5 linked regions of the Homo sapiens genome follow. The protein of the gene in region 2 purifies or fractionates together with the protein of the main gene of each other region. This does not show direct contact. Each region holds a gene or a part of one and is shown on either strand. Other genes may lie near its edges.

What was found.
Region 1: the proteins of H2BW1 (region 2) and TRO purify together in Homo sapiens (affinity purification with mass spectrometry; one large-scale study listed by BioGRID and IntAct). This does not show direct contact.
Region 3: the proteins of H2BW1 (region 2) and MAP1S purify together in Homo sapiens (affinity purification with mass spectrometry; one large-scale study listed by BioGRID and IntAct). This does not show direct contact.
Region 4: the proteins of H2BW1 (region 2) and MACROH2A1 purify together in Homo sapiens (affinity purification with mass spectrometry; one large-scale study listed by BioGRID and IntAct). This does not show direct contact.
Region 5: the proteins of H2BW1 (region 2) and HSPG2 purify together in Homo sapiens (affinity purification with mass spectrometry; one large-scale study listed by BioGRID and IntAct). This does not show direct contact.

What each region holds. Positions count from the first base shown.
Region 1 is NC_000023.11:54,927,320-54,930,834, reverse strand, and holds part of TRO (trophinin), read right to left. Parts: exon of another isoform or gene 3,400-3,515; intron 3,169-3,399; coding exon 3,054-3,168; intron 2,233-3,053; coding exon 1-2,232. UniProt on the Homo sapiens protein: Could be involved with bystin and tastin in a cell adhesion molecule complex that mediates an initial attachment of the blastocyst to uterine epithelial cells at the time of the embryo implantation. Directly responsible for homophilic cell adhesion.
Region 2 is NC_000023.11:104,010,909-104,015,144, forward strand, and holds H2BW1 (histone H2B type W-T), read right to left. Parts: upstream 2,801-4,236; 5' UTR 2,669-2,800; coding exon 2,262-2,668; intron 1,841-2,261; coding exon 1,804-1,840; 3' UTR 1,782-1,803; intron 556-1,781; 3' UTR 239-555; downstream 1-238. UniProt on the Homo sapiens protein: Atypical histone H2B that can form nucleosomes structurally and dynamically indistinguishable from those containing conventional H2B.
Region 3 is NC_000019.10:17,722,465-17,725,979, reverse strand, and holds part of MAP1S (microtubule-associated protein 1S), read right to left. Parts: intron 1,855-3,515; coding exon 1,772-1,854; intron 932-1,771; coding exon 791-931; intron 152-790; coding exon 1-151. UniProt on the Homo sapiens protein: Microtubule-associated protein that mediates aggregation of mitochondria resulting in cell death and genomic destruction (MAGD). Plays a role in anchoring the microtubule organizing center to the centrosomes. Binds to DNA. Plays a role in apoptosis.
Region 4 is NC_000005.10:135,392,729-135,396,243, forward strand, and holds part of MACROH2A1 (core histone macro-H2A.1), read right to left. Parts: intron 1-3,515. UniProt on the Homo sapiens protein: Variant histone H2A which replaces conventional H2A in a subset of nucleosomes where it represses transcription. Nucleosomes wrap and compact DNA into chromatin, limiting DNA accessibility to the cellular machineries which require DNA as a template.
Region 5 is NC_000001.11:21,825,796-21,829,310, forward strand, and holds part of HSPG2 (basement membrane-specific heparan sulfate proteoglycan core protein isoform b precursor), read right to left. Parts: intron 3,285-3,515; coding exon 3,040-3,284; intron 2,632-3,039; coding exon 2,460-2,631; intron 2,358-2,459; coding exon 2,235-2,357; intron 2,125-2,234; coding exon 2,068-2,124; intron 1-2,067. UniProt on the Homo sapiens protein: Integral component of basement membranes. Component of the glomerular basement membrane (GBM), responsible for the fixed negative electrostatic membrane charge, and which provides a barrier which is both size- and charge-selective.

The sequences.
Region 1 (3,515 bases), about 49 Mb from region 2:
TCCACCGCTGAAGCCAACAATAGAACTGGGTCCACTACTGAAGCCCGTGCTGGTGCTGGGTTCGCCAGTAAAGCCAGTGCTGGTGTTGGAACCACTGCCAAAGCCAATGATGGTACTCAGTCCTCTGTCGAAGCTGGCATTAGGCCTACTGCCAAAGCCATCGCTGGTGCTGAGGCCACCACTAAAGCCAGCACTGGTGCCAAGTGTGCTGCCGAAACTAGCATTGGTGCCCAGTCCACCACCAAAGCCATCACTAGTGACCAGTCCACCACCAAAGCCAGCACTGGTGCCCAGTCCGCCACTGAAGCCAGCACTGGTGCCCAGTCCACCACCAAAACCAGTGCTGGTGCCTGGTCCTCCACCGAAGCCAGCGCTGGTACCTAGCCCACCATCAAAGCCAGAACTTGTGCTTAGGCCACCACTGAAGCCAGCACTGGTGCCTAGGCCACCACCAAAGCCAGCACTGGTGTTCAGTCCACCACCAAATCCAGCATTGGTGCTTAACCCATTGCCAAAGCTGAAACCGGTACTGGTGCTGGGTCCATCACAAAAACTAGGGCTGGTAGCACCACTAAAGCAGGCACTGGTGCTAGGAGGGCCACCAAAGCATAGGTTAGTATTAGATGCACTGCCAAAGCAGAGGCTGGTGCTGGGAGCTCCACCAAAACAGAGGCTGGTGCCATGAGCACCACCAAAGCTGACACTGGTGCTGGGAGCAGCACCAAAGCCAATGCTGTTGCTGGGAGTACCACCGAAGTCAGCAGCGGTACTAAGTGCCCCACCGAAGCCAGCACTGGTGCTAAATGCACCGCCAAAGCCAGGGTTGGTGATTGGTGCACCACTGAAGCAAGCACTGGTGCTGACAGCACCACTGAAGCTGGCACTGGTGCTGACGGCACAGCCAAAGCTGGCATTGGTGTTGAGTGCACCACCAAAGCCAGCACTGGTGCTGGGAGAGCCACCAAAACAGACGCTGGTGCTTAGTGTACCACCAAAGTCAGTGTTGGTGCTGACAGCACCACCATAACCAGCATTGGTGTTGAGTGCACTGCCAAAGCTGACACTGGTGCCAGGAGAGCCACCAAAGCAGACACTGGTGCTTAGTGTACCGCCAAAGTCAGCACTGGTGCTCATAGCACCACCAAAACCAGTACTGGTGTTGAGCACACTGCCAAAGCTGGCACTGGTGTTGAGAGCACCACCAAAGCCAGCACCAGTGCTGGGAGAGCCATCAAAGCAGATGCTGGTACTTAGTGTACCACCAAAATTGGCACTGGTGCTGGAAGAGCCACCAAAGGAGACACTGGTGCTAAGTGTGCCTCCAAAGCCAGTGCTGGTGCAGGGAGAGCCACCGAAGCAGATACTGGTACTGAGTGTACCACCAAAGCTACCACTGGAGCTGGGAGAGCCACCAAAACAGACACTGGTGCTGAGTATGCCTCCAAAGCCAGTGCTGGTGCTAAGCGCACTACTGAAGACTGTGCTCGTTGTGGGTGCACTGCCAAAGCTGGTGCTAGTGCTGAGTACACCACTAAAGCCAGCCGTGGTGCTGAGTGTGCCTCCAAAGCCAGAGCTGGCTCCACCACTGAAAGTGGCACTGGTGCTGAGTGGGCCACTAAAACTAGAGCTGACTCCACCACTAAAGCTGGCACTGGTACAAGGCATGCCACCAAAGCTAATGCTGGCTTCACTGCTGAAACTAGTGCTGGTGCTGTGTGCACAACCAAAGCTAATGCTGGCTGCGCTGCTGAAGCTGGAGCTAGTGCTCAGTGTACCACCAAAGCTAATGCTGGCTGTATTGCTGAAGCTGGCACTGGTGCTGGGTGCAACACCAAAGGTAATGCCAGGTCCACCACTGAAGCCACCACTGGAGCTGGGTGCACCATTGAAGCTAATACTAGCACCATCGCTGAAGCCAGCCCTGGTACTAGCTCCTCTGCTGAAGTTGACGTTGGTGCTGGCATCTGCATTTTCTTGGGCTCTGGCCTCAATTTCAAATGAAAATCTGCTCCAGGCCTGAGCATCATCGCCTAACTCTTCCCTTGTTAGGCAGTCGATATCCATGTCATCCCAATTCCAGGGCCCAGCCACAGCTTCCTCTCCAATCCCCATTTGGGCTCTTGCCTCAGCCCTGGCTTCAGCCTCAGCCACAGCCACAGCTGCAGCTTGGACTTCCATCTCCACTGCCTCGCGGTACTGCACAGCCCAGTCCTTGGGGTCTTTCTTCTGCACCTGAAATGGGGATGATAATCATAATAAGAAAACAACCCTAGTAATCATGTATTAACCTACGGGCTTTGTATTAAACTAGTAGCAATACTTTTTTAAACTTCTCAGTTATTGGGGCTCTATCATGGGTCAGTTCTGAACTCCAGTTTCAGCTCTGCTGACTTACGTGCTATATGACCTTGGACAAGTTACTTAACCTCACTTAGCCTAAGTGTCTTTATAATTACAGGAAATGATAGAGCGTAAATATGTTATGAACTGAAGGGTTGTGCCCGCCCCCAAATTCGTATGTTGAATCCCTAACACCCAGTGTGATTGTACTTGGAGATAGGGCCTTTATGGAGATAATTAAGGTTAAATGAGGCCATAAGGGTGGGGTCCTGATCAACAGGATTAGTGTCCTTATAAGAAGAGACACCAGAAAGCTTGCTCTCTTCTCTCTCACACACAAAGCCATGTGAGGACACAGCAAGAAGGCAGCCATCTGCAAGCCAGGAAGAGAGCCTTCAACAGGAACTGACCCTCGTGGACCCTGACCTAGGATTCTCGCCCTCAAGAACTATGAGAAAATAAATTTGTTTTTTAATCCACCCAGTCTATGGTATTTTGTTATGGCAGCCCATGCTGATTAATACAAAGTATGAAGAATGAATGAGATGATGTAAACTATATATCTAGCAGCACCCTGGGACATAAAGGAGGCTCCACATGTTTATATATGAGCTGCAGGCTGCTCTGTACCTGCCCATCCCTGTGCATTGCCTGCCCCAGCCAAGGGTATCCCATTGCCTTAATATGCCAAGCTCGGGCAGCTCTCCTCTTACCCTGCATGCAAACTTGAGGACTTTCATCTTGCTAGTCTCGTGGTAGGAGCGCAAGCCCCAGAAGAACTCATATTCAGGTGGTCTGCTGTTAGGGACCCTCTTGTACTCCAGGTACCTTGGAAAAAGGAAATGAAACTTGTTTCTAACCAAGCAACCCTGCTGTCTAAGCACTAGACACCAGGTGGCAACCTCCTCCAAACAAATACAAACAGCCCCTGGAGAGGGATTTCTAAGACCCTCCAGCCCCAGACTCACTACCAAACACAGTTTATGGTCTTGGCCTCCAATACTGAGCCATTTCCCACTGGCCCTGTGCAAAGCAGTCCCTTGGGCTTCTCCAGGGGAGACATGTATAGGGCATGATGTCACAGGAAGGCCAAAGTATCATGCCACCTGTGAGGAGTAAGCCCAGATTCCTGTTGGGTGTGTTGTAAACAGAGGAGCCATTCTTAAGGCCCTCTG
Region 2 (4,236 bases):
CTTCACATCAAAGCAGCCTTTTTCTCTTTCTTCCTATAACTCACCGGCATCAGTCCCCTTGAACTCTCACTCTTCACTCCCCACAGCCCAATCAGAGTTCATTGTTAACGCTGTTTTACTAATGCTCCTCATTCATTTCTGAATTTACAAATGGAAAACACACACTCCAGGGTAAAATATCCCAATGGATACGGTTTCTGAAAAAGACATGTCAAATTACCCAGTAGACATGCAAGGATAATTTTAGAAATTTATTTGTATGTCCCATTTGACAGAAAGACTGGCGCTTTAAAGCGAAAACAATTAGCATAATGAGAAATAAGTCACTGAGTGAGATGCGGTGTTTTAGACAAGGTACACAGCTCTGTCTCTGGAAAGGAACAGGGTTCTGCCAAGCGTCTTTGGTTTTCAAAGTGTTGCTCCGGACATGTAGGGTCACCTGGCGGCACCGTCCAGAGCGATTTAGTTGTGGCTGATTTCGTGGGGGGTTTTTCTTGGTCTCCTTGTGCAGTGAGCATTTCTCTTCAACTATTTTCATGACATTTTTCTAATATTCTGCAAAAACAGAAAGTAGCAAATCCCAATGAGGGGACTTCTTGGCCCTACATCCTTTCTCTACGGAGCCCAAGTGGAGCTCTGGAGGTGAACTGCCCACGCTGCCCAAATGCACTACTCAGGGAAGCTCTGGCTACTATCCTGCCATGCCCCCATTTCCCTCTTGACCAAACGGTCCTCTGCCAAAGGTGGAATAATCTATGTGGCTATGTGTTGGGCCATCTGGTGTGGTTCTTTCCCACTTCTGATGGGCTCAAGAAAATTTTGATTTTTGTCATTTTCCCAGCTTTTGTTTCATGGTTTGACTGAGAGTGTCACCCTTTACTGGTTTCTACATATGAAGGAGAAAGGTTGTTTATGAGATGTTTCAAAATTCACGGGAAACATTTGACAAAAATGGCCACATATTGAGCTTCAAGGCACAATACAATAAATTCCTATGGGTCGCAATCCCAGAGTATGTTCTCTGGTCCACATACTCGGGCGGCTGGAGATCCTCTGAAAAGAAAAGCAATGGGAAAGTCAGCAGCTGCTCTGAAATTCAACAATACACTCATAGGAAAAAGTGCTAAAAATACAAAGACTTGGGACCCAGAAGAAAGCACAATGAAAGCTAACCTATATTAACATTAACATGAATATTAATATGCAAATCTCTTGAGGAAATAAGCGTTATCTGACTTCTCCTAAAGGCTGACCATCCTCTGCATAACTTGATGCTAGGGGCAAGGAACATATACTACTCCTAGCACTGGATTCATATCCTTAAATGACCATGATTACAAACACTGAAAACAAAAACATCAGGTAAAGAATCACAACCCTGTCCCCCCAAACACCAGACTGCATATCAGTGCAAGGCTGTTGTGGGTTCAGCCTGGTTCACTGCCCCCACACTGGGACAATGACTGTTGCTCATAGACTGCAAGTCACTCATTGGCTACACCACTGAACACTAGGGCATGAGCCATTTCTGTGGACACTCCCTAAGCCTACTGACACAAACCTGGAAGTAACGAAGGTTTCTGTTTAAAAAGAAACGAAAAGATTATCGTCATGGCAAAAAAAGAATGAACTGCAATAGTGATCTCAGAGTCGAGGAAGCTGGAAAATGAACGGATTCTTGAAAATTTTATTTAGCTGTATGTACACTGTAACTTGGCCTCATTTGCTTATTTACATGGATTCGTGATGGGAGCGGTGTTGAAAACATTTAGGAGGGTTACCTTGCTTCTTGTATCAGCGTATTCACTTTCTCTGTTGCTGTATGGCATACAGTGAAGTTCTGGAAAATTCCACCATCCAGTCACAGGAGAATGAGACAGAAAAAGGTAAAGATCAGTGCAGTAATAATATCACCATATAGATAGCCTAGAAACATAACTAACAAAAATGACCGTTTACGAAACTGAGGAAATGAAACACGATCACGGAAACACCCACTATTTTTCCTTGGAGCAAACTGCACTACAGATATATTGGAGCTGACAATGTTTAGTACTGAGGGGAAAATGCTTGAAACATTGCAGGATGCCACACGCCACATGCCCCCCAAGTCGGAAGGGCACCACCCACCCCAGCCTCCGGTGGTGTCCCCCTTGGCGAGCCACTGGTCTTTCAGGCCACATTCAGTGGCTCTGAAAAGACCCTTTGGGTTCCCGTGGTGCTCGGGTGCTCCTGAGGGAGCGCACTTGCTCCTGGTGTACCTGAGGACAGCCTTCGTGCCTTCGGACTCGGCGAGCTTGCCCATCTGCCCCGGCAGCAGCAGGCGCACAGCCATCCGGGTCTCCCAGGCAGTGATGGTCTGGCGCTTGGTGGAGCGGGCCAGGTGACCAGCCTCGGTGGCGATGCGGTCCAATATGTCATGAACCAAAGAATCCATGACACTCACGGCCTCCCGGGAAAGGCTGAGGCCCTGGTGAACCTGCTTCAGCACCCGGCGGAAATAGGTGGCGAAGCTGTCCCCGCGGCAGTTGGAGTGGCACCTGCGGGGCCCATGGCGCCCTCGCTTCCTCTGCTTGCTCTGCTTCTGGGACGTAGTGGAGTTGGCCTCTTTGGGCTCCTGGGTGATCAGCTGTTCCTCAGAGGTCGTCTCAGAGGAAGGTCCAGCCATGGCGGAGGCAGTGGCCATTAGATGGCACGACCAGACAATGGCGGTTGTGGACCGGGGAAGCCGGGGCACTTCGGTACGCAGCATGGCTCCACGTCTCGGGCCAGCTTCACGTCTGATTGGATGAAGTGTCACGCAGGGAGCCTCTCAGCAAACCTACCTGCGTTGAAGGTGACTGGATGGTCCCGTTGCGTGGCATCTCGTCAACCAATCACAGTGGGCGTCTGCGGGCCTAAGCGCCCCTTGTGGCCCAGCTCGGAGAAAGTTACACAGATAGATGCCTCACGGGGCAAAAGCGCATCCGCCCTTCTCAGCTGATCCATGCCACACTGTGAGCACTTTGAAGGGTGTCACTGAAAACTCCCAAAGTTTAGCAATTTCAGCTCATGATCCCTGAGGAGAGACAGACCTCCTGAGCCCAAGTCCATTATGCCGGAAGAATGACTGTGGCCACGTGTGGAACAATTGTCACCCATCTCAGAAGCTACTGTTATCCTGGGCTAAGCCACCCTGGCTTGAGCAGGAACTCCCTGACATGGCCGCCTGGGCATCAAAGGACCTAGCGGTCTGGCTCCGGGCTTCAGTACTGATCAACATCTTCCGTGAATCAGGAGAATGAGAAATGGCCATACCCCAGCCTCCAAGCAGACAATAGAAACAGAAAGGCACTTTTATTAAAAACATATGACAACACTCGACATCGACCAGGTTTAAAAAAATAATTAAAAAAAAAAAAAGGAAAGCAAAACAACAACCACAAATCACAACTCAAAAGCTGGAAATGGCTAATAAGTTTAAGAGATATTGGGTTAAAAAATATCGCCTTAAATCTCCTAGGAAGCCCCTGAGGGAGAGAAAGGGATTCCAGAAATGGAAATTATGTTCAAGTTAGAAAGAGAGCTTTCAAGAGTCTCTGATAATATACGCAAAGGCATTCCTTAAATGCATTTAAGTAACATTAAGTTGCAGGAATTGAACAAGAAAGATTCTTAAGAAATGCTGAAGAAATAAAGGTCATCGATGAACTGTCATTTCAAAGGTCAGGCTTTCAAGTGTATTTCCTGTCATGTCTTTAGCAAACAACTTATTCTACTCCTAATAAATTGGTTCACGATTAAGAAGGACAAAAAGGCTCATTTTTGTTGTTAGATAAGATCGTATATGGTAAGCTCTGTGACTGAACTCTAGTACACCATTTCTGAACAGTCCCCTTTACAAATGATGATCTTATAAATCTACTTAAACGTTTAGCAAGACAATCCTTCTCGTAGTTTGGTACAAGGCACAAGAGACCTGTCCACAACAATCTCTGTATTCATATCAGTAAGTCAGCATGATATTTTTCTTAAAAAAAAAAAAGCAAACAAAAAACAGGGAAAGAGCCACATCGTTTTTCTTCACAATCTGCAAGGTTAAACCTCCCAGGGAGGCTCTCACTGGTTCATTTCCGGGTCACCTCCCCACACTTTCAGCCATGGCTTGTGGTGCCTCAAGGGCTGGAAAGCCTTTATTGCCTGAGCCAGTGGTGACTATGGCATGAGCTGCTCTCACAGGATGTTCCCATCATCTAC
Region 3 (3,515 bases), on a different chromosome or scaffold from region 2:
CCGGGGGGTTCAGCCGCAGCTGGAGCCGGAGCGCCCCCTGAAGGCCAGGCACAGCGGGTGCCAGCTGAGCCCAGTCACCGAAGGTGGGGCAGGTGATGGTGAGTATGGGCGGCTGCACAGGTGGGGGCGTGGTGGCCAGGATGTCCCGGATCTGTATGGAGGAGGAGTGGTAAGGGACCACCTAGAGCCAGGCAACACCTAGCCCGGTGGGAAAACTGGGCGAGGACACCCTCATCCTTTCCCCCAGGGCCTGCTCCTCAGGGCCCTCCCGCCAAAACCCAACCCTCTCCAGCGCCACAAGGCTCTTTGATCTGGCCTCACCTCCTGTCTCTCCCTCCCCTTCAAATGCCTCCCTGCCCCAGGGCCTTTACACTCACCATTCTCTCCTCCCAGGGCACAGCTCCCTCCAAGGAGACTCTCCACGCCCCACCTGTCTACTGAACCTTTTCTCACCATTTTTAAGTGCCCCACTACAATGTGAAAGTGAGGTTTGCCATTTTGCCCATGTGTCCTACCCAGACTGCGGGCACCAGGAAGGACCCATTTGGCTCCATCCCTCATCAGGACTTTGGGACATCTGCTGACCTACAAACTCAGCTCACACCACACCCTTTCGCGGGCAATGGGACTGACCCCAGACAGCCAGGAGGCATGTGTCACCACTGCCATCCTACAGAGGATGGGGAGACCAGGCCATGGAAAACAGCAGGTCGCTGGTGCCACACAGCCTGATACACCCCAGTCAGGATTCAGAGCTGGGGAAGCAGGGGATGGCAAAGGGGTGGCTTACCTCTCTGTCCTTCAGGACCTGGAGGAAGTGGTGAGGCGAGAAGCCCCCTGTCTGTAGCAGCAGCTCCCCCGTCTCCTCCAGGCAGGGCCCAGCCAACACCAGTAGCTTGTGAGAGGCAGGGTCCAACAGAAGGTTCCGGAGCTGAGGGAGGGGGTGAACACTAAAGGACCCGTTCTGTGCAGTGACGTATCCAGCAGTCCTCTTTGGGGTAGCCTCGAGTCGATACATAACCACCCCTCTCCTGTCCTCACCCCACGACCAGCCCAGTGCTCAACTAGCTACGAAGGCAGTCTCCAGGTCTCCTGCTGGGCCCTGGAGCAACCCTAGCAAACTCCTATTCATCCTACAAAGCCCAGCTCTGATGTCCCTTCCTCCTGAAGGCACTACTTGCCCTTTCTGGGCTCTCTCTAGTCCACCTCTCCCTCCAGCCCAGCCCTGATGCCACAGGGCTGGGGGTGTCTGTGTCTCACTCTGTCTCTTAAAGACTGAGAGCCCCTCAAGGGAACAAAAGGGAAAAGTTGATCCAAGGAATCAACCTGTAAGAAGGTCTGTAGTGGGATGCCCCAGGGCTCTGTCTGGTTCATCTTCCGGATGTATAATTGGTAGAGTACAGATGGCCACAAGCTGGTTAATGTTAGTGAGTCGATTCAGACAACTCCTGGGGCCTAGCCGGAGGGAACCCACAGGAGGAAAACCTGTCTGCTCTGGCCTTCCCACCTCCAGACCCACGCTGTCCTGGGCCCTGAGCTGGGAGTGCTTACCCTCCCCTCCCTCCCAAAGTCCAGGCTTTTCTGCTCCCACCCCAGAGGAGGGAAGAAGCGGAGGCTGAAGCCACAGGGAAGGCTTCGTGGGCGAAGAAGTGTGGTGCCGGGTGTCTTGAGAGGATCTGGGGCAGCATGAAGACAAGGACACGAGACAGGAAGACAGAGAAGGCACGGGTCCCAGCAGCCCGCCCCCTCCAGGACGTCAGCCATTCCCTACCTCATCATACAGGGACTTGTCTGATGGGTTCAGGAGGACCAGGGTCTCCAGGTTGTCTCCACGGTGGTGCAGGCTCCGCTGGCCTGTGGGGGAATCAGGCCGTCCCGGAGTCAAATCCTGCCTCCCCGTGTGACCCTCAGGGAACATGAACCCCTCTGGGAACCCACCCAGGGATCATATGGAGATTAACAGGCGCACGGCAGAGCTGCAGGTCAGGACCAGGCAAGAAAGAGAAACTCAAACCACCCCAGCTGGCCTAAGAGAGGCAGTAACCAGAGGGCCCCATCGTGCGCAGGGCCTGGTTTGCAGCTGTCACCCCTGGGAGTGATGCCACCATTTTCTTCTTTTTTTTGTGAGACGGAGTCTCGCTCTGTCGCCCAGGCTGGAGGGCAGTGGTGCAATCTCTGCTCACTGCAAGCTCCGCTCCTCCTCCCGGGTTCACGCCATTCTCCTGCCTCAGCCTCCCGAGTAGCCAGGACTACAGGTGCCCGCCACCACACCCGGCTAAGTTTTTGTATTTTTAGTAGAGACAGGGTTTCACCGTGTAAGCCAGGATAGTCTCCATATCCTGACCTCGTGATCCGCCTGCCTCGGCCTCCCAAAGTGCTGGGATTACAGGCGTGAGCCACCGCGCCCGGCCTTTTTCTTTTCTTTTTTTTTGAGACGGAGTTTTGCTCTTGTTGCCCAGGCTGGCGTGCAACAGTGCAACCTGGGCTCACTGCAACCTCCGCCTCCTGGGTTCAAGCAATTCTCCTGCCTCAGCCTCCCGAGTAGCTGGGATTACAGGCACACGCCACCACGCCCCATTAATTTTTTCAATTTTTAGTAGAGACGGGGTTTTAACATGTGGGTCAGGCTGGTCTCAAACTCCTGACCTCAGGTGATCCGCCTGCCTCGGCCTCCCAAAGTGCTGGGATTACAGACTTGACCCACTGCACCCATCCGGCCACATTTATTTTTCAGACAGAGAGCCAGAGCTCGAGGAGGGCCAATGAGGGCGAACGTGGACGAGGGTACATCCGGAGCAAAGGTCCTGAGGCAGGACTCAGCTAGGGGTGGGGCAGCATAAGGGCCGGGGCTGAAGTAGGGCTGTTTCTGGGATCCTGACCCTGCTCTGTCCCCCAGGGCCCGTATGTGTTTTAAACATCAGTACTGTGAGAGGGGGGTGGCAAGGAGCCAGAGCCGGGGTGGGGGCCGGTGAGGGCCAACCCGGACCAGGGTACAGCACCAGCCAAGGCCCCTGAGGCAGGACTGAACTGTGAACAAGGCTGAGTCTTGAGAGGCAGAGACCCTCCAGTGTTGCCAGCCCTTATCACATTTAACTTTCTTTCCTTTCTTTCCTTCTTTTCCCTTTCTCTCTCTCTCGCCCTTATCACATTTAGCTTTCTCTTTCCTTTCTCTCTCTCTCTCCCTCCCTCTCCCCCTCCCTCCCTCCCTCCCTCTCTCTCTCTCTCTTTTTTGAGATGGAATCTCCCTCTATTGCCCAGGCTGAAGTGTAGTGGCACGATCTCAGCTCACTGCAACCTCTGCCTCCTGAGTTCAAGCAATTCTCCAACCTCAGTCTCCCAAGTAGCTGGGGTTATAGGCGCTTGCCACCACAACCAGCTAATTTTTGTATTTTTAGTAGAGATGGGGTGTCACCATACTGGTCAGGCTGGTCTCGAACTCCTGACCTCAGGTGATCCACCCACCTCAGCCTTCCAAAGTGCTGGGATTATAGGTGTGAGCCACCATGTCAGGCCTA
Region 4 (3,515 bases), on a different chromosome or scaffold from region 2:
AAGCATTATAATTAAAAACTAGAAGTCCAAAGCCAGACTGACCTGATTATAACCATGGCTCTGCCGCTTACTGGCTGTGCATTTTTGAGCAAGTGATTTAACCCCTCTGAACCTATTTTCTTATCTTTCAAGTGGAGATGATGCTAGTAAGGGCCTCAAAGAGTTGGTGGCAGAAGTGAATCAAAGCATCCATGTAAGGGCCTGATACTCACTCACTGGGCAAGTTCTCAGTAGTTAACAAAAACAATAATGTGAATAAGATGAAAAAAGGCCATCTTCTTGCAGAACAGATCTTGGACATTTGCGCTGAAGACATTGCTAGCTGCTGTAACAGATAAGTCTCTACAACTTATTTCTCACTCCCGAAAAATCCAAAATGGGTTTCCATGATTGGCTGGTGTTTCTTGTCCACATAGTGATTCATGGATCCAGATGCCTCCCATCTTGTTACTCTCACATCTTCAATACATGATTCCCAGGGTTGCCATGGAAAGAAAAAGACCATGGATAATAACCTATGAGGGTTTTAAGGGGCCAGGCCTGCAAATGGGGCACATCACTTCTGACCATGATCCATCAACTAGAACTTAGTCACATGCCCACAACTAATTGCAAGAGAGGTTGGGAAATGTACTCTGGCTATTTACTCAGAAGAAAAGAGGAAACAGCCAGTCTCTGTCACATGATAAACCAATCTGAACGCTGACCCTAACCCCAGAATGAGTTACCACCCAAAACCTGTTGGGCCCTGTTTGACCCATGTTCTGCATCCAGCCTTGTTTGAGAAACAGACAGCCCTACATCATAGACAAAGCAGCTTCCTAAGCACTCATCACCTCTGCAGGGCAGTGAAGCTGGTCACAGGAGAACAGCTATACTATCTGGTCAAACTTGACAAAGATGTGTTCTTCCTTCCTTCAGTAAACCAGGAGGCTTCACTCATGGCTCTGCATGCTTTGAAAACAATGATAGGTCCTCAGGCAACTGTGTCTGTTCATCATTGCACATTAGCTTGACTGCCCTTTTGGCTGTTATTGGCCTAGAAAATGAAGGTTCTGTGATTGATCTTGAAGGGATCTCTGTGGTCTTTATTTCTGCAACTCTTCCAATTATAAATCACAATAAACATTAACTTTGTTTATAAAACCTCAAAGCTTACCCAAAGACAAACTTTTATAGAGGAGCTGGATGGAGAGATGAGTCAGGCTACAGTGAGAAGCAACAGAGTCTGACCACAGGCCCCTCAGCAATCGAGATGCGACTGGAGCAACGCAGTCAGTTCTTTTAGCACAGGACTAATTAGAAGGCTGGCTATGTAGACCCCATGAATAAGGTGGACATGAGAACAACAAGCTGTGTACTACTAGGAGGGGCAGTAGGGGCAAAGAACCAAAGTGCCATGGAGGCCCTGCCACACCCTCCTATCCCTTCCCAGCAGGCATCCTAACAGGCTGCTCCCTGCACTGCAAACCACCTTCATTCCCACTGGCACCTTCAGCACACCCAGCATGCTCAGTCTGAACATCTCTCTAGCCCTTTGTCTGGAGTAATCCTGCCTACTGGTCCCAATACCTTCCCTGGCAATGATCCATCAATGTGCTCCCTCTTCTGCATTCCTGCCATGGCCATGCCTTCTGTCAGTCACAGTCTAGTTTGGGGCAGCTGCATGTCCAGACTCCAACCTTGTGCACAGGCCCTGTTGACCTCCAACACATCTCTCTATTTGCAACAACCAGAGATCCACCGGGATGAATTTCTCCCTCCCAGTTCCCTCAATGGATGTGGCAGCTGCAGACCCAGGGCCCAGCTAAAAGTGCCTCACAATCTCCCTCAGGCTGCCCCTATTCTTTAATATACTCAATTATTTTTCTTAGTCTTATATACAGTACTCTGCAAATGCAGTTTCCAGCCCTTCCTTCCATCATGATTGCCAGTCACTCTAGATCCCATTTACATATAAGTTCTGAAACCAGCTATCCCATTCTTAGCACTCAGTGCATGGTATCATCATTGCCTATTTACCTGTCTGTCTTGATGAAACGAACCAATTTGCTCTACTCACCACTGTATCTCCAAGCACCCACCACCCTGCCTGGCACCCGGTAGACATGCACATGCCAGCTACAAGGTAGCTGATTAGTTGGCACTGACAGTGGATAGGGAGAAAGGAGAGGGCAGCATTTCCAAAGCCCACAGGACTGGGAGCTATGGCTAGTGGGACACCAATCAGAGACCTTCTCTTGGACATTCATGTACATACACCTGGCAAAATCCCTATAGGAGCCCAGACACTCAAAATTCAGGGAGCTTGTAGAGCTACCTTGGGGATTCTCAGGAAAGGAACACTCCAATTGCCCTGATAGCTGGGCATAAGGCACACTGAGGCCTTATGACTCTGTGACAGTTCTATGGTTCCAGTGACCTCTCCTCCTGCCTCTGGCTCAGTACCATAGACTGCAGGAAAATACTTAACCTTCCTCACATCTATAAGAGATTGACTCCTGTTTAAGCTACAGCACAGAAACCCCTTAAACAATCAGGGCACTCATGAAACCGCTGGAATAGTCAATCATGAAGTATTTTATTATCTAAGCAATGAATACATGCCTATTGATCCCATGCAATATTGATTAGAACTGCTGGGGAGTTGCTAGTCAAAGAGCCCTATCTCCAGCCCCTGAGGATAGAGGAGTCTGAGCTATCAGTGCTCAAATAACTGCTGATGAGGAAGAACCACGCCATCCATTCTGGCAGCTGGATAAATGCCCGCATATCCACATGCATTTGTCACCTTCCCATCAACTCCAATCACAAAGGCCAACCTGAGAAACTTAATTCTGAAGGACAAGACACTAATCCTGTTTACAGCATTCTCTTCCCTCTTCCGTTTACTCCTATCACACCAAATGATTAACGGTGTCACCCGCTGTCATGTCCCCAGAGGCATGTGGATATACTAGACAACCATTGCTCACAGAGCTGGGGTTCACAAGCTGCACTCTGATTGGCTTGGATCAGAGACCTGTTCTAGTATTCTAGCCAATCAGGAAAAATATCTCTCTCCATTCATAAAACACCATATCAAAAAGTGAGCCAGATGATTAAAGAACCTACAGTCCACTCTCAGTGAACTAGGGGACTGCAAACAGAAGAGACAGACCAACTGAGATAGTAAATAAATCATAAACCATGCATTTTGTTCCAGCAGATGTGTCTTACTCCTGTTATGTTTTCAGTGGCAGGAAGAAACAAAACACAAACACAAATGTCATTTACCACAAGCAAGAAACAGTTTTGGGGAAGCTAGTCTGGGATTGAAATTTCACCTCTGCAAACCCATTCGGTGATGCGCTTCCCGAGATGCACTGAAGGAACTGTGCAGCTTGCTACATTTTAACAGCAAGTTACTGCCTGCCTGCTTTACAAAAAAACTTTTCTACATACTCCTCTCTCTTTTAAAGGTTGTGCCAAACTCTTAAGATAACCAGTCTCACGGAAGGCTATTTAGAGAAAAG
Region 5 (3,515 bases), on a different chromosome or scaffold from region 2:
TTATTTTTGAGATGGAGTCTCGCTCCGTGGCCCAGGCTGGAGTGCAGTGGCACAATCTTGGTTCACTACAACCCCCACCTCCCAGGTTCAAGCAATTCTCCTGCCTTGGCCTCCCGAGTAGCTGGGACTACAGGTGTGCACCACCACACCTGGCTAATTTTTGTATTTTTAGTAGAGATGGGGTTTCGCCATGTTGGCCAGGCTGGTCTCGAACTGATCTCAGGTGATCCACCCACCTTGTCCTCCCAAAGTGCTGGGATGACAGGTGTGAGCCACCGCACCCAGCCTTATTTTTTATTTTTTTGAGACAGGGTCTCAGTCTGTTGCCCAGGCTAGAGTGCAGTGACACAATTGTAGCTCACTACAGCCTCGACCTCCTGGGCTCAAGTGATCCTTCTGCCTCAGCTGGGACCATAGCCATGTGCCACCACACCCAGCTAATTCTTAAATTTCTTGTAGAGATGAGGTCTCCCTGTGTTGCCCAGGTTGATCTTGAACTCCTGGGCTCAAGCAATCCTCCTGCCTGTCTCCTGAGTAGCTGGGACCATAGATGAGCACCACCATGCCCAGCTACTTTTTGTATTTTTTTGTAGAGACAGGATTTCGCCTTGTTGCCCAGGCTGGTCTGGAACTCCTGGGCTCAAGCAATCTGCCCGCCACAGCCTCCCAAAGTGCTGGGATTATAGGCGTGAGTCACCATACCCAGCTGAATATAGTATTTTTTTTTGAGAGGGAGTTTCGCTCTTGTTGCCCAGGCTGGAGTGCAATGGTGCATGCAATCTTGGCTCATGGCAACCTCCACCTCCCAGGTTCAAGCGATTCTCCTGCCTCAGCCTCCGGAGTAGCTGGGATTATAGGCATGTGCCACCACGCCCAGCTAATTTTGTATTTTTAGTAGAGATGGGGTTTCTCCATGTTGGTCAGGCTGGTCTCAAATTCCCAACCTCAGGTGATCTGCCCGCTTCAGCTTCCTAAAGTGCTGGGATTACAGGCGTGAGCCAGTGTGCCCGGCCAGCTGAACATAATATTAACAACAGCTAACATTCTGTACTGACTCTGTACCACACATTGTTCTAGGCATTTAAAATGCACTAAGTGGCCGGGCGCGGTGGCTTATGCCTGTAATCCAGCACTTTAGGACGGTGGCTTACGCCTGTAATCCAGCACTTTAGGAAGCCAAGGGGGGCGGATCACCTGAGGTCAGGAGTTAGAGACAGGCCTGGCCAACATGGTGAAACCCCATCCCTACAAAAAATACAAAAATTAGCGGGGTGTGGTGGCAGGCACCTGTAATCCCAGCTACTCAGGAAGCTGAGGCAGCAGAATCGCTTGAGTCTGGGAGGCGGGGGTTGCAGTGAGCCGAGATTGTGCCACTGCACTCCAGCCTGGGTGAAAGAGCAAGACTCCACCTTAAAAAAAAATGCACTAAGTAATTTTACTCTCACATAAAATTTTATCCAAATCTTTAGGGAAAGATGTTACTCATCTCCATTTTATATGAGGCACAGAGAGGTTAAGCGACTCACCCAAAGTTCCACAGCTAGTAAGTGGGAGAGCTAGGATTTGAACCCAAGCAGGCTGGCTCCAAGTCTATACTCTTACCCACTATACCACTGCCTCGCCTATTATATTAGTGATACATAAGAAGAGATGTGTCTGTAAAGGGGTTAGCACAGTGTCCGTAAACATTCAATCAGCATTCACTCTTCACTGTTTCCTTAGCTTTTCAGTAGACGGTGGAATTCTTGGGAATGAGGGTCTTGCTTTATGCATCTTATATTTACTGCTCTCAGGGCAAGGATGGGCAACAATAGTTTGTTGACTGAATACATGAATACAGAGGAGGAAACTGAGGTCAGAGTGGTTTCAAAGGCCTGCCCAAGGTCACCCAGCCAGTAAGTGTGGGGCAGGCCCTAGCTCCACATGGCTGTGGTCTTCATTCTGTCTCTCTGCCCAGCAAGCTCCTCATATAAAGCTGTTTTGCTTGCAGGCCAGAATTGAGGGTGTGGGGTAACTGGAAGAGTGAGCTGAGCTGAAGCTGGGGAGGAGGCCATGGCAAGTACTCACCATTGCCCCCGCTGCCTTCAAGATGCCAGTCGGACTCTGCTATGCCATGTCCAGAGCCTATGGAGAAGGGCAGGGTCCAGTTGGTGGGCATAGACACCCGTGGGTACTATGTCGAGCTCCGGGGCCCCAAGACAGAGATGAAGTGGAGAGAAGCCAGGCCTGGGTACCTTGTTGGCAGCGTGGGCCAGAGAAGCCAGGGAGGCAGAGGCAGCGGGTGCCCTGGCAGGTGCCCCCATGCAGACAGGGTTCACGGAGCTGGCAGGGGTTCTCCTCGTGCTCACACAGGTCTCCTGTGGGCCAGGGCAGAGGCGAGTGGGTGGGTGGGCATGGGCTGGAGGTGTCGCTGACCACCTGTGCCCCTCCCCTCCGGTGCCCTGGGCAGGCTTTCCCACCTTTGAATCCATCTCGACACAGGCACTGGAACTCATACTCGCCAGCGGGCATGCACGTGGCACCATGTTGGCAAGGCTGGCGCTCACATGGGGAGCTATCATAGCATTGCCCGATGCCCTGGCTGCCTAGGAAACTGTAGGTGAGGTCCAGCCGTTTGCCATTCACTGACACCTGTGGGGACAGGGACACCGAGGGACTAAAGGGGCCTGGGAGGCAGAGACCCAGGTGTACCAGCAGGGAGAAGAATGCAGCAGAGGGGAGCTGGGAGCCCACATTGGGCCCTGAGTGGTAGCATGGATTCTCGGTGTGGGGAGGGAGGCGCAGGAGTTGAGTGCCTACTGTGTGCTAGAAACATTCATCCGTCAGTGCAGACAATCCTCTGCCCAACCTTTCAAAGTAGGTGTGATCATGCCCATTTTACAGAGGAGGAAACTGAGGCTCAGAGGTACAGTGTCCTGGCCCAGGGCCCGTGGGTGGCTGCAGGTGGAGGGGCCCAATGCCAAGGTGCTTGGAGAGCCGAGGGGGACACAAGGCTTGGCACCCCTCCCCTCCCGCTTGTCCCGAGGAGGCTGCTCTTACCTCGCCCACACAGCCGCGGAAGTGAGCGCTCATGTTGGTGGCCGGGGACAGTGGCACGGAAGGCTCCACACCCCCCAGGTAGAGCAGGGTGTGCAGGTTGAGGCCCTGGCTCTTGCCGGGCGAGGAGCGCAGCACAGGGCGTCCACCATTCACCCGCAGGCTGCCGTCCTTGTTGAGACGCTCTGCAGACACACGGTGCCAGCGGCCCAGGGCCAGCGGCTCGGCGCTCCGCAGAACGGCCAGCCCTGGGGAGGATGCCAGGCAGGGTTGGGCACATGGGGGCACACGGGGCTCCCTGCCCTCTCCACCACAAACAGGGCCCTGAGCAGATGGGGAATGCCCTACAGCCTTCTGTATTCCAGATGAGGAGCCCATGGCTCAGAGAGGGCTAGGGATTGGCCTCAAGTGACACAGAGACGAAATGCACAGGAAGAGGGGACTTGCCCTGATCCCTGCATTTATCCTCCCATGCCTCC